Homo sapiens: one gene and its partners. The protein of the gene in region 4 purifies or fractionates together with the protein of the main gene of each other region. This does not show direct contact. Each region holds a gene or a part of one and is shown on either strand. Other genes may lie near its edges.

Region 1 (3,500 bases), on a different chromosome or scaffold from region 4:
ATGGACCTTCCATCCACAGGGGCGGTGACTTCAGATATAGCTTTTCCCATGACACCATATGTTACCCATAAAATTTGCAGCAGTGTTTCAGTAGTTTTGTTTTGAAGGAGAAAATCATCTGAGAACAGAGGATATCAACAAAAAGAAGGGAATGGTTTGCATCTGAGGAGCCTGTGTTGTTTTTGACACGGGTTACCAGAAATCCTATCCTTTGTTGAAGCACAGTTCTGCCTCTTCCTTAGGACAGGGTGTGTGTGGACAGGCTGGGAGACCTGCCTATAATATGGAGATTTTTTGGGCACCAAAGGGAACCCAACTATCAAATTCCCCACTGAGTCACCACCGAACCCAGTACAGGAAGCCTCAGGCAATACTGACTTGGCAATTAATGGGCTAATCTGGCCAAGTCACACCTCAAGACAGGGCATGAGTTAACCTAATTAGGCCACCCATGATGCATAAATTCAGGAGTCCATTTTTCCAGAAGGGAGTGCAGGTGAGAGATTGGGAAGGGGGGTAGGGGGCATCAGATAGTTCTCAAGTGCATCCCTTTACAAGAGTTCTAAAAATTCGACACCTTTGAGGCCCGTGCATTATCTTCCTCCACCAGGTACCTTGGTCCAAAGAAGTATTAAATTTAGTCAGAGACTGTAGCCAAAGCAGTACATTTTTCCCTCTTTCTCTACGGCTATCGAAGGTCCACTGATGCTGCTGCTAGTTGTTCACTTACCAGTTCTGGGCATCAAGTGCTAATTAATGTTCCTACAAAAGGATCAGCCCCAGAGTCTCCACATCAAGACCCACACACACCACTGAGGCTGTTGCCATGGCAACCAGGCCTCCTAACTTTGCACTAGCTTTCCACAGAAGACACTTTTCCTTGGTTGGAGCTTTTCTTTTGCTCAAAGAGGAGCTCTTTTCATAATTGATGGCACAGAGGCCACGTTTGCTGCCTCATTAAACTAACGAGTTAGATTTACTGAGGCAGTCACTTAGCAAAAGGTCCCCGCTCGCAAGGGAGTTTGCCAAACTGGCACAGTGAGGTGGGGCATCACTGGGCTTTAATATGTGGGATGTGGGAATGGGTGTCAAGTGTACCCATGTGCAACTCTTCCTTTGGGGATACCAAAGGGAAGACTGCACAGCTTCGGTGGACCTTTAATTCCCGAGTCCCATTGCTCGAACTTGAGACTGTTAATCTCAGGAGTTCAAACCCTGGGCAGGTCTGAATGCTTAGCACTAAACCTAGGCATTTCTCTAATTCTAAACATCCCCTGCTAGATTTTTCAGAGATGCTACATAGAAAAAGGGTGACGGAGAAAGCAACCACTGAAGGTAAAATGCCAGGCTGTGAAAGGAAGTTTTAAATCCCCCAAAGACCACAATTTTAGAGTTTTTAGTATCCATACCTACAAAAAAAAAAAATTCACATGCTGACAGAGTGCTTGAAGCTTACCTGGATTGGGTTGTAGAGTTCCTGCAGGGGGCTTCGGGACCCCTTCCGGCAGCAGATGTCCACACCAAAGGGATTCCTCCGCATGACTGAGGAAAGAAAGTGAAGGCTCATCAGAAATGAGCAACAAAGATTTGTTGTCTGTCAAAGAAAAAGGCACAGAGTAGGGAAGAAGAAACAGGCAGGAAAGAAAGAGAAAACCAGCTTCTAGCAAAGGAAGATTTCCACACTGTCCCTTCTCCAACAGCACAGCTGCTGTCTGTCTTCCCAACATTCAGGCATCTCCACACCCAGAAGGATCTAGATCATGCTAAAAAGTCTCCCCAGCAAGTGTTTTAAGAAAACAGGACAGGCATCTAAAGCTCATTGAAATGAAACCACTTACAAAAGATGGCGTAATGGCTGCTTCAAGACAGCAAGTTCTACCCAGCAGCAGGCTTGGTAACACATTTTAAGATTCCGCAGACTTCTCCAGCAACAGTCAATGACCTTTCATTCCTTGTCCCTGAAAGCTGGGCTTCTGAGAATGGGCAGGTCCTTCCCCAGGAGGCTCCTCCCACTGGACAGGTCAGAGGCCCAGCCTCCCCAAAACCTCTCCTAAATTATGTTACTTTTAGTGAAAATATCAGCATGAAGCAGAAAAGACAAGAGTTTATGATTCCAGACAGAGATGGTACTTACAATTAATAAAAGAGGGGGAATAAGTGAACTCCTCAAACCCCACCAACATTGAAGCCACCAAGAGCTCTTTTTAAATGGCAATGAATTCTTTCTTTTTCATTTTTCTTGTTCACTCTGTGCAGCCCCTCATGCATTATGTAACGCATAGTCATGGGCTTGATCATTATTTGTTGGAGGGAGGAGGAAGGAGGAAGGGAGGGATGAAATTGGGAGAGAGGGAAGGAAGGAAGGAAAAAAGGAAGGTAGGAGGGAAGGAAAGAGAGCAGTAGAGAGGGAGAGAAGGAAGGAGGGAAGGAGGAAAGGAGAAGGAAAGGGAGGGGAGCAAGCGAAGGAAGGAAGGGAAGGGAAGAAGGAGAGAGGAAAAGAGGGAGGAAAGGAAGGAGGAAAGGAAAAAAGGAAGCCGAGAAGGAGGAAGGAGGGAAGAAGGGAGGGAAGGAAGAAAGGAAAGAAGGAGAGAGGGAAAAAAGAGAGATGGGGGAAGAATAAATGGGGCTTTCTTCTCAAGTACGAGGCAGTTTTCTTATGGTTTGAGGTGCAACAGTGGCATGAGTGGAACAAGGAAAACTAGATCCTTTCATGAGCCTAAAGAATTCACCTGCTCCACAGAGGCAATGAATGGACAGCAGGACATTCCCTGGAACAGATAGCCTGGGTTTCAATACTGGCTCTACCACTACCAGCTGTGTGACCTTAAGGAAACTACCTAACCTCTCTGTGTCTCTGCTTCTTTGTCTGTAAAATGGGAATGACAGGGGCATCTAACTTCCTGGGTTGGATGTGAAGATTAAATGAGTAACTACTATGTGCAGAATGCTTAAAACTGTGCCTGGCCAAAAGCCACAGTTTAAAAGTGTTGGTGACAAATTTCAGAAGCTATTTTAGATCCCCCTGGGAGGAAGGCGGGAACTTCTCTATTTGTGGCTATCAAGGGGACTGATGAGGAGTGACCAGACCTCAAGCAGGGTGCAGCTCAAATGACTGGGAGGGCTGGCTGCAGGGGGTTAGCCCAGGGACCTCTGCTTAGAAGTCAATCTGAGGTCAGGAAAGGGAGGAGAGTCATCCAAAAGCAGCTGATGACATCTGGAAGGTCTCCGGAGGAAAAACTACTGCTCAGGTGAGCCTCCGTTGACTTGTCACTTTGAGCCACGTGGAAACTCTGAAAGTCAATCATCAATGCCCAGAAACAAGATGCCATGTTTTCTCTTTCCTTTTCCTTGACTTCCTAGGGCAGGGGTCAGCAAAATTTTCTGTAAGGGGCCAAACAGTATTTAGGCTTTGCACCCTGCAGTCTCTGTCATAACTCTTCCGCAGGGCCACTGTGGTGTGAAATCCTCCCCAAACGATACAGAAATGAATGGGTGTGGCT
Region 2 (2,428 bases), on a different chromosome or scaffold from region 4:
GGCAAGAGTGAATCCCCCAGGCCACACCCTCCCCCTCCCCTAATCTGCATCACCATTAGCCAGGGCCACCTCTGGGACACAGCCTGGACCAGAGGCCCCAGGAGGGGCAGGGTGGGACCCCTGCCAAGGAACCACTGGTCGTGAGCTTGAAGCCCATCCACTCCCCTAGGGCCTGGGGCACTCGCCCCACCTTGCCTTGCCCTTCACACCTCCTCTCCCTCTCCCTGCAGGAGCACAGGCCACCACACACACCACCAGAGCCAGATCCAGAGCCCCTGAGCGTGGTCCTGTTAGGACGGCAGGCAGGCGCAAGTGGACAGCTGGAGGGGCCATCCTACACCAACGCTGGCCTGGACACCACGGACCTGTGACAGGGGCCCCCACTCTTCTGGACCCCTTGAAGAGGCCCTACCACACCCTAACTGCACCTGTCTCCCTGGAGATGAAAATATATGACGCTGCCCTGCCTCCTGCTTTTGGCCAATCACGGCAGACAGGGGTTGGGGAAATATTTTATTACCAATGTATACTGTGACAGTTTGTAGCCAAAAACTGCGGCTGGAGGGGTGGGGACGGGACACTGAGTGGTCACAAGGGACTTGGGCTCACAGCACAGGGGGGACAAGGGGCTGGAGAGGGTGGCCTTTAAAAGACAACTGTGGTTATAGAATGAGCTCTCTGTCCTGTCCCCAATACCCAAGAACACCGGTCACCCAGGATGCCAGGGCCCAAGAGCTTCTGTGAGCCCAGCTGTGACCTCCAGACCTTCCTGAGACCCTCTGGCCTTTCTGTGACTCTCTCTCAGCTGAGCCCCCAGGGTACTTCCTGTAGCTGTCTTTGGCCTCTCTGGGAATCTCAAACCTGTGACTCAGTGGGAGAGGGGATGGGGCTGGAACCAGGCGGGTGGGAGATAGGAACTGGGGAAGGACCACCAACAGCATGCAAGAGACGCCCCGGCCACGGGGCCAGCCACTGCGTGGAGACGCTCACACTCGTTCTACCTCACGTGCTGCCCGAGACCTCACATTCAGAGACGTGCCCACTCGCGGGTCTCACACACCGATCCTCACCCACTTGAAGCTTCTGCCACTCAGACTTGTATGCAGTCTCTCCCTGTTCTGGGGATCTGGCCCCACCGGAGACCACAACGCACCAGTCTAGACATCTCAGGAGCCTGCCCCAGCTCTCAGGGGGTGGGAGGTGAGGGTGCTGAGCAGGCCCCCGTGGTCGCCCAGTGTGACCGGGAGTAGAGCTGAGGGCTGTGAGGGGACAGTGGGGCGTCAGGGCTGGCCGGGTTCGTGGCCTCGTGGCCACGAGGGAGCTTGGTAGAAGGGGTTCTTCTGTATTTGTGATGGGAGGGGCTGGAAAGACGGGGACGCAACAGCCCTAGAGGCTGCACAACCCCTCGGAGGCCTGTGGCACGCAGAGGGGACCCCTTCTAGGGGCCTGTGATCAAGAAGGGAGCCTGAGAAGGTCGGAAACTCGGGCGTACAAAATGGGGGCAGATCACTCGGCCGTGGGTCCCGCCCGCGAGCAGCACCGCGGCCGGCGCACACTCTGCAGCAGCGCGCGGAACAGGCCGGGCGGACGCTTGGCGGCGCCATCTGGGGGCGCGGTGCGCACCGAGCCCGAACGGCCGGGGCCGGCACGGGCGGCGGGCGGCGGCGCGGGCGCCCCTTGGCGGCCGTGCTCCTCGATCTGTCGCTCCAGATGCTTCTGGATGGCCATGCCCAGCACCTCCACCTCCATGGCGGCGCCGTATACCTCCCACGTCATGCCCTTCTCGTCCCAGCTCACGTCTCGCACGGGCTCAGCCGGCTCCGGGGGCGCTACAGCGGCCGCCAGCGCTGAGCCGGGCCGCACCCGCACTTCGGGGAAGGCGGGCGGCGCGGCGGCTTGAGGTGTCATGGGCCCAGTGGCCACGGAGCGCGTCTCGGCGGCGCCCAGCGACACCTGCAGGCCCGCATCTCGGCGCGAGGGCGGGCTGGGCGCGCGCGGCGCCGCCTGGAAGCTGAAGGCCGAGCCCCCAGCGCCGTCCTGCGGAGACATGGGGCTCACGGCCACTGAGACGCAGGCCTGCGCGCCCGCCTGAGTGCCCGCGTCCTCGCGCGGCGGCGGCGGGGCGCTCGCCTCCCACGACGGCGCCTTGGTGAAGTTGTCGCGAGTCCGCGGCCCCGGCGGGGGCGCTGCGGCCTCTGGGCAGGGGCTTCTCTCGGCCCCAGCGGCTTCCAGGTCTTTCTGGCCGAGACTGGAGGCCTCGGTGCTGGACACGGGCTCGGCCTTCGGCTCCACGCGGCCTTCACTGCCCCTGGCACCCTCGGGAGACCGGGCTGAGCCGAGGGCTTTGCGGTCTAACTGCCTGGAGGAGGAGGACGGCTTGGTCTTCTCCAGACTCAGGGGGACCACCTTCCCCAAGGATGGGGACTCC
Region 3 (3,500 bases), on a different chromosome or scaffold from region 4:
GTGGCTTATTTGGGTGAGGGTTTCTTCACAGCTATTCTGCTTATGTACCCCCAAAAGGGTGTGCTTGTAATTAAAGTGATCCCTTCCTCCTTTCCTCCCCACCCCCCACCCTGCCATCCATTCTTCTCTTTCTCTCTGTTCTTCACTGAACAAAGGAAGCCAGATTTTCTTTCTTCTGCTGTGCATGGTGCCAGCCAGGATGGAAAAGTCTGAATGTTCATGACCCCACAAACAGCCTCAGGCAAGGACAGAGGGATTGGAAAATACATACTCCAGGTCCCTTGACCCCTGGACATGACAACTTCAGAGGTGTTCCATGCTGCCTCCCGGGGTCCCCAGTGAGATGTGCCTCTGTGGCCAACCATGGCCCCTGTAGCACCTGCCTCACTTCTTCTCTCCCCTACTGGTTCTTCCTGGGATCACCCCCTTAAAAAGTGCTTACAGGCCGGGCGCAGTGGCTCGCGCCTGTAATCCCAGCACTTTGGGAGGTCAAGGTGGGCGGATCACGAGGTCAGGAGTTCAAGACCGGCCTGGCCAAAATAGTGAAACCCCGTCTCTACTAAAAAAAAAAAATACAAAAAATTAGCCGGGTATGATGGCGGGCTCCTGTAATCCCAGCTACTTGGGAGGCTGAGGCAGGAGAATCGCTTAAACCCAGGAGGCGAAGGTTGCAGTGAGCCAAGATCACACCATTGTATTCCAGCCCAGGTGACAGTGTGAGACTCCGTCTCAAAAAAAAAAAAAAAAAAAAACAAGGGACTGCTGGAACCCAAAACCATGGTGATCCCTCTTTTGAGGCTCACGTAAGATCACTTGTTCACTCATTCAACAAATACTTCTTGAACATTCACAGTATGTCAAGCATGATGCTGGATTCTGGGGACATAATAATGAACAGGATACAACAGGCTATTATACAGCAGGAGCACAATAAAGCTACCATTGATATCTATCATTATCGTCATTGTAGGACAGAAGTGTAAAACAGGTGGCCGGCGCGCTGCATGGGGCTAGCAGACAAGTCTTGTTTGGGCTGAACAGCATTTTTAAAAATAAGTCCTCCTCATTTCCTAATGGGAGGATTACACATAAAAATCTAGATTTTCAGATTCTCTTGATAAATGAGGTTTGCCATCTCAAGGCCAGCATTCCTGCCTGTGAAGAACCAGCTGGGCCAGGCATGGTGGCACACGCCTGTCATCCCAGCACTTTGGGAGGCCGAGGCAGGAGGATCACTTGAGCCCAGGAGTTTGAGACCAGCCTGGGCAACATGGCAAAACCCTGTCTCTACAAAAAATAAAAAATTAGCCAAGCATGGTGGCGCATGCCTGTCATCCCAGCTATTTGGGAGGCTGAGGCGGGAGGATGGCTTGAGCCCAGGAGATTATGGCTGCAGTGAGCCATGATCATGCCACTGCACTCCAGCCTGGGCAACTAAGCAAGACTCTTTGTTTCAAACAAACAAATAAACAAACAAAGAACCAGGTGGGACCAAGCAGCAGTTGTCCAGTTCAGATAGGGCATGAGCTCTCCATTTGCCACAATCCATACCCCTCCCTGGAGCCTCATACCCAGCCTGACTCCACTCATTTATGTACCCAAAGTGGGCCACACAAAATCTGAGTTTCGGCCCCCTAGACTAGATGTTTAAACCATGTTTGACAAAATTAAAAAGTGTCTCGGTACTTACCTTGTGACTGTCTCCAGTCCCTGACTCCCACCAACAGGGTCCCATTTTGGCCTCCAAATTCTCTCCAGTAAGGCTGGGCCTCCCTTTGGGCTGCTCTCGCCTCCTCTCTCTGGCTTCATGCATGATGGACAGGCCCTCTCGGATGTTGGCAGGGGGCCCCTTCTCTGAGTAGGCCCTCTTGATATCCAGCGGCACCCGTCCACAGTCACGTGGGTGGTCACCCCACTGGGCCACACTGTCCTCCTCTCCCCGCCCGGTGGATTTCCTTGGGGTCCCTTTCTTCTGGTCAGTGGGGGGCGATTTGGGTGACACCCTGACCCCACTGCCTGGATCCTCCCGACCAGAGGGCTTTGACTCAGCCAGGTAATTCTGACACTTTGCAACATGATGTTTACTGGCAAAGGCCTTTCTGTCATCCTCAGCAAACCCCGTTTTTTTCCTGGGATCCGCAGGTATAGGAGAGCCCCCTGGATACCTTTCAGAAGGAGCCGAGGGTGGCAGAGCCCAGAAGGGAGGGCTAGATTTGGTGCCCATGGCTGTCTCCAAGGTCTCTGCCAGCTGCTTGCCTAAGCCAGGAGTGAAACTGTGATTTATTTCGGCAGAACTGGCCGGTTTCCAGAGACCCCCGGTATCGGGCATCTCCTTCAGGCTCCTCCTTCTCTGCTCCACCCCGCCCAGCTGAACAGGCCTCTCCCGAGGCAACGTACTGGGCTCCACGGTGGGACTCCTCCTCTCCTGAGCCTCCCCAGGGACTTTCAGCGACAGCTCCTGGTACTCTGCCATCAGGGCGTCAATGTCAAGAACGCTGGATCTGTAGCCATCTCTGATTTTACCTGGGAACGTGTCACTGATCACATCAGTCTTCCTTCTCACAGGAAGATCTTTTGGACGACTCCTCAGAGTCGGGGTGGTTTGGGGAGCTCCGCCGCTGGGGGACATCTTGTTCGCACTTTCCTTCCAATTGCTTTGAGGACGAGGGCCATCTTCTGATCCCCGATGACTCCATAAGGCATCCACATCAATGATTCTTCCATTGAAAGGGTCCAGACTCCAGGCCCCAAGAGATGATGGACGGTCTGTTGGCTTCAGAGTTTTTAAAATGCTTGCATTTTCATGCTCTCGTCCCTTCATCCAGTTTTTACTGCCTGCCATCTCCAATGCCTCTTCATGACCAAGAGAAACCAAAGTGGATGTTAAAGAATGAGGAGACGAGGGTGGAGTGATTTTTCTAGAATGTTCCAGCAAGCTTTCAGCTCCTGACAGAACCACACCCTTTGCCTTTTGAGTATTGGGAATCTGATAGGTGACTGCAAAAAATGTCGCCTTGGGTTCCACAGGTGACCCTTGCTTCACTGCTGGGGAAGTCTGGTCCCGTGAAGCACCTGGGTTCACCTCCTGGGTCTCCACCCTGTAGTGGGATAGTTGAGGTTTTCTTAAGGCACTGGCTGTGGGGCTCACATAATCTGTTCGTCTGTGCCCCACATGTGGAGAGTCCTCTGGGACAAGAGAACTGAATGTATCAAATTTCACGTTGGGGGGTAAAGTCCGCCGCCGCCATCTGTCCATTCTCTGGTCCATGGCGCCGGCTTTCCGCATTCTGACTGCAGGCTGTGGCACCTGGGCCGGCCCTGGATCACCCTCCCTGGCGGCTACAATGAAGGGCCCTTTCTGCACAGCAAATGCATCTGGATGTGTTCGTGCTTGGGAGTCAGAAGGCCCATTCGTAGCCCTGGAAAGAGGATCGAGGGGGCATCCCTGGGGTGGGCCCCTTGCTCCCACTCCTGGCTTGCTTCTGGCCCCCTCTGGCCCC
Region 4 (5,547 bases):
GATGACTTAAGTCCAAGAGTTTGAGACCAACCCGGCCAACACGGCAGAATCTATCCGTACAAAAAATACAAAAATTAGCCAGGCGCGGTGATGGTGCCTGTGGTCCCAGCTTCTGAGGTAGGAGGATCGCCTGAGCCCTGGAAGGTACAGCTGCAGGGAGCCGAGACTGCACCACTGCACTGCAGGCTGGGTAGCAGAGTGAGACCGTCTCATGAAAAAAGAAAGAAGAGGTGGTTTGCCTTGAGACTCTGGTGAGGAAATGTGTGTTACTGATAAGTTAAGCAGGCACAAAAAATAAAGGTGTAAGATACACCCAGCCTGCCAGGAGCAGCCCCGTATCACGTGACCAGTCCCGTGGGCGACACGGGCGCCCTGCAGGGCAGCAGAGAACCCACCCCAGGATGCCGGGCAGCGACGGAGCAGGCGACTCTGCACGTTCTCCTCAAAGCCCCAAACCAGACCACGGGCATGACCGGGAAGGGCACACGGAGCCCCAGGGTGGCAGCAACGCCACGGTACCCGCTCAGCTGTGCCTCACAACTGGGCCAGCAGGGGCTTCTGCCTGGACGGCTCTCCCAGACCTGGCCCCGTGCAGGGTGGCCCGGCTCTCCCCTCACCTGGCCTTAGCCCGGGTGCCGGGCCCCACCCGGCCCCACCCTCTTCACGCAGAGGCACCAGCTTGGACCCGCCCAGGGCTGAGGCTGCCCTGCTGGCCAACGGCCACACCCCAGACCCAAGGAAGAGCCTCTCCCTGGGACCTGACCGCTCTCTGGTGACCACCTGACGGCCACACAGATGTCTCCAGCAGACCCAGGCCTCAGGGCCAGGCCCTCAGGCACAGGCTGTGCCCTCTCCCCAGGAAACTCTGCCTCACGTGGCCTTCAGAGTACGGGGCAGGCCCCAACCCAGACTCACAGCCTCAGATTCTCTGCAGGACCTAACTGAGTAACGGCCGTGAAGGTGCCGTGACCAGCAGAGCTGAAAGCTGCCCAGGCACAGCTCACACGCTCCCCACCGGACTCCTGGGCGGCGCCTAGGTCAGCAACGGCTTCACCCACTTCCCTCCTGACAGCCACCACCAACCAGGTTGGGCCATGCTGTTAAGACGAACACGTGTGCACACAGCGGGTGTGAGGGCGCACTCACCTGCATGTACTCACGAGCCTACATGAACAGCTACCTGGATGTACTCACAAGCACACGCACAGCGCACTCGTACACACGACACGCACACACGTACAAGCACATGCACAGTGCACTCGTACACACGACACGCATACACATGTACTCACGAGCACACACACAGCACACGTACACACAACATGCACACACGTACTCACGAGCACGCGCACAGCACACTCGTACACACGGCACGCACACACGTACTCACGAGCACACGCACGGCACACTCATACACGACACACACGGCACACTCATGTACACACAACACACGCGCGCACACACAGGATGCCTGAGACCGGTGGCGGGAGCCTGGCTGAGCACTCACTTTCCTCATCCACTTTGAGTTCCTCGTTGAGCCTGATGGCGTCGGCAACCTCCTTCTCGCTATGGCCTTTACTCGCCAAAAACTTCACCTTATACTCGTCCCAAGACACGTGACCTGGAAGAGCAGATCACACCTGTCAGGGCCTCTGATACTGAGCTGAACTTCCTTCTCAACTGAGATGGGGTCTTGCTCTGCTGCCCAGGCTGGAAGCGGCAGGATGCCAGCGTCTGGAGCCCCAGGGCCCCGGCCAGCACCCCACACCCGTTTCCTCACCTGTGAGGCCAGCCGGCAACGTCTGTGCCTCGGGGCCACCAAGAGGCATAGACACCACCAGATGAAGGCCCCGAAGACATAAGAGGCGCCCTCCATGGGCCACGCCCAGTGCTTGGCACACACACCTCTGTCACCAGGATTCTGGCATCATGAACCCAGCTTCCGTGCACCCCACCACACCTCGGGGTCTCCGGCTGACACTTCCCCACCGCCCGTCCCTCAGACAGGGCCTGTCTGCCCTCCAGGCACCAGGCAAGGCCCATGGCCCTGCCCGCCCCGCCCACCGCCCCACCCACCCCGGCCCAGCCACAGTACCGTCCCCGTCAGGGTCCACGGCGCGGAAGTGTGTCTTGCTCTCCTCCATGGCCTCCTGGAAGTGCTCGGCCGTCTTCTCCATGATCCAGCGCTGCATCTCCTTGGCACTGATCTTCCGGTCAGTGTTCACATCCACCCTGCAAGACAGCAAATGGGCAGGTGGCCGTCAGACTGGGCCCCCAGGACCCCGAACAGCCAGACGGATGCCGCCGGCCCAGGACTCCATGGCTGCGTGAACCTGCCACCAACAGCGACAGGCTCCACCAGGCAACGCGAAAAGCGTCCGGGACGTGGGGCTTGTGGGGTGCCGGGCCACGCCAGAGACACTGGGGAAGGTGGATGCCACGGTCCCCTCCCCGGGGAAACACATGGACCCTCCCCCTCTGTCACACAGAATCACCACCAGACCCCACTCTCCAACCACAGCTTCCAAAAGTCACACTCTTCACGTTTTATTTTATTTTTTGAGATGGAGTCTCACTCTGTCACCCAGGCTGGAGTGTGGTGGCGCAATCTTTGCTCACTGCAACCTCCGCCTCCCGGGTTCAAGCGATTCTACTGCCTCAGCCTCCCGAGTAGCTGGGATTACAGGGGTGCACCACCACGCCTGGCTAATTTTTGTATTTTTAACAGAAATACGGTTTCACCATGTTGGGCAGGCTAGTCTCAAACTCCTGACCTCAAATGATCCACCCACCTCAGCCTCCCAACGTGCTAGGATTACAGGTGTGGCCACTGGGCCCGGCCCATGTTTTATTTTCGATGCTTCAGGTATGGCTACACAAAAACCTTCATATAGGCAGGACGCAGTGGCCACACCTATAATCCCAGCCCTTTGGGAGGCTAAGACAGGTGGATCACTTAAGCCCAGAAGTTCAAGACCAGCTTGGGCAACATAGGGAGACCCCACCTCTACAAAAACAATTACGAAAATTCGCCAGGCGCGGTGGCGTGCACCTGTGGTTTCAGCTACTCAAGAGGCTGAGGTGGGAGGCCTCCCGAACCTGGAATGCGAAGGTTGCAGTGAACTGTGATCACACCACTGCACTCCAGCCTGGGCGGCATACCGAGACCCTGACTCAAAACAAGACAAAACAAAATCCTTCATATAAATTTAAGTTGTGAGATTTAGGAAGAAGACCGTGTGGGGACTTAACATTGTGTGCAAGGATGGAAGAGACCACAGACTTGGGGGATAGGGACACAGACTGGGGACACGGGGCCAGCGCAGGCCAGGTCAGGAGGCCACAGGCCCCAGGACAGGTCACTCCCGTCCCAGCTTCAGAGCTCGGCTTCACCATTATGTCTTTGTGGAAGCCACAGGCTCCTACCCCTGCTGCAGCCGCCCGTGTCCTGAGCTCACCTGTTGGAAACTTAACCCCCAGGGCAACAGCACTGGGAGGCAGGGCTTCCAGAGGTGCGAGGTCTTGAGACCCCGGCTGGTGCGTTTGCCGGAGGCATCCCCGAGAGTAGGGTGCCCTGGCCCCTTGCCTCTATGCTCCGCTCAGGGGCAGCCGCGGCCACGTTATGAGGTGGCAAGCAGGCCCTCGTCAGGCAGGTGTGGCCTCTGGGACCTGGGCCAGGCAAGCTTCGAGGGTGCACACACCGCAGGCACGGCTCAGAAGCACTGGGCAGAGATCCTCATGGAAGAAGGCCAGGCTGCCGCTCACACGCGCCCCTCCCTCAGCAGCCGCAGCAGCCCAGAGGTGGACGGGCCTGGGAGGCACCCTCAGCTCCACAGTCCCCAAAACACACCGGCTGGGGACGGGGCCACCCGGGTGGCCATGTGGCAGGTGGGGCACCTGGTGGGTCTCACGTGGACACGTGCATCCTCGAATGCTCCGGTCACGCTCCACACGCGCCACAGACACAGGCCACACGCTCCACACGCCACAGACACGGGCCACACACTCCACATGCCACAGACACGGGCCACACACTCCACACGCTCTACACACTCCACAGACACAGACACACACGAGGCAGAGCAAAAAGCAAAAAGGTGGAAAGAAACCACATGGCGCAGGATTCCAGTCAAGATGTCGGCAAGGAGTCACTCATCCAAACTCAGGTGCCTGAAGACACGGCTGCAGGGCGGTGCACGTACATGGAGCTGGCACGCACACACGCAAGTGCACAGGCCGGTACCCACGTGTACACAGCACACACACGTGAACAGGGCTGGCAGAACACAGATGTGACTGGGCTGGTGCACACACGCATGTTATCAAGTTCTGGCTCCTGAGAGAACAAGGGCAAGACGCCCAGTGCCCAGACCCTGGCTTCCAGCTCCAGCCACGGGAGACAGGGCTTCCTGGAAAGGCGGCAGCTATTGCACTGGGGCAGGTGGCACGGAGGCGAGCCCAGAGCATCTCACCGTGCCAGGAAGCGGGAAGGAAAGCCTGGAGCATCTCGTGGTGCAGGGAAGCGGGAAGGAAGTGAAGCTCAAAAGCCCCTAGGACAGGGCACCTCCCCTCTGGATGCTCTTTCCAGAAACCCTCAACCCTGTACGGTCAGGAGGAAACATGGCACCTCCCCTCTGGGGGCTCTTTCCAGAAACCCTCAACCCTGTACGGTCAGGAGAAAACACATCCCACAAGCCCAAACTGAGGGACAGCCTAAAACCTCCTACCCAGCCCTTCTCAGAACTGTTACGTCCTCACAAAAACGGGAGAGTCTGAGACACCGTTCCAGCCCAGAGGAGACAGAGGAGACAGGACAGCTGAGTGAACGTGGGTCCTGGAGGGACGGGGCCCTACGCAGGAGAAGGGCGAGAAGGGACCCGCGTGTGGGAAGGGAAGTCTAAACACCCACAGCGGCCGCTGTCGCCGCTCGGCGCAGGAGTCAGGGAGACCCGGAGACCTGCTGTTACTTCCCACTCCCCATGCCCACCTCCTCAAACGAGACAGCTTGGGGTTTCGTTACAGGCACCAAAAAGAAACCCCGGTCCAGCTGGAGACGCACCGAGCAGAAGCCTCAACTCCCCTCGCCCAGGCGTGCAGCCCACCCCCAGCACCGGCTGAGCAGGGACGGGGACCCTTCCCCTGTGATGCCGCGAGCCAGGCCTTCGTGAGCTCAGGGGTGGTGAACCTGACAGGCCCCAGGGGCACCAGCAGCCTCTTCGTGGGTTGGTCAGCTCACCACCAAGTGAACTCAGGCCACGCAAGGACCCCCGAACCGTACCATCTGAGGAGAGGTGCAAGGGGACACCACACCTGGTGCCCAGGTCCTCCAGCTGGCACCGTGCCTCCGTCCCACCAGCTCACCTGTGCTCCGCCCGAAAGCCTGGATCCTCAGGGCCCTCCCGCCTGGCCCTCAGCCCAAGGGCCGTGGCACAGCCAGACCAGTCCTCACACCTTTCCTACCTGCTCCTGCACCCCAGGACCCCAGCCCTGCCCAATCCCCTTGCTCACCAGCTTTGCCACCTGCCCCTCTGCACTGGTCCTGGAGCA

The links. The genes of interacting proteins can lie anywhere in the genome.
Region 1: the proteins of SDF4 (region 4) and CHST11 purify together in Homo sapiens (affinity purification with mass spectrometry; 3 studies listed by BioGRID and IntAct, with this or other methods). This does not show direct contact.
Region 2: the proteins of SDF4 (region 4) and GPRIN1 purify together in Homo sapiens (affinity purification with mass spectrometry; 3 studies listed by BioGRID and IntAct, with this or other methods). This does not show direct contact.
Region 3: the proteins of SDF4 (region 4) and KIAA1671 purify together in Homo sapiens (affinity purification with mass spectrometry; 3 studies listed by BioGRID and IntAct, with this or other methods). This does not show direct contact.

The regions. Positions count from the first base shown.
Region 1 is NC_000012.12:104,599,948-104,603,447, reverse strand, and holds part of CHST11 (carbohydrate sulfotransferase 11), read right to left. Parts: intron 1,543-3,500; coding exon 1,457-1,542; intron 1-1,456.
Region 2 is NC_000005.10:176,595,302-176,597,729, forward strand, and holds the end of GPRIN1 (G protein-regulated inducer of neurite outgrowth 1), read right to left. Parts: coding exon 1,507-2,428; 3' UTR 501-1,506; downstream 1-500. Other genes in the region: CDHR2 (cadherin-related family member 2 precursor), read left to right, coding at 231-371. UniProt on the Homo sapiens protein: May be involved in neurite outgrowth.
Region 3 is NC_000022.11:25,039,716-25,043,215, reverse strand, and holds part of KIAA1671 (uncharacterized protein KIAA1671), read right to left. Parts: coding exon 1,691-3,500; intron 1-1,690.
Region 4 is NC_000001.11:1,221,737-1,227,283, forward strand, and holds part of SDF4 (45 kDa calcium-binding protein isoform 2 precursor), read right to left. Parts: intron 2,233-5,547; coding exon 2,096-2,232; intron 1,622-2,095; coding exon 1,508-1,621; intron 1-1,507. UniProt on the Homo sapiens protein: May regulate calcium-dependent activities in the endoplasmic reticulum lumen or post-ER compartment. Isoform 5 may be involved in the exocytosis of zymogens by pancreatic acini.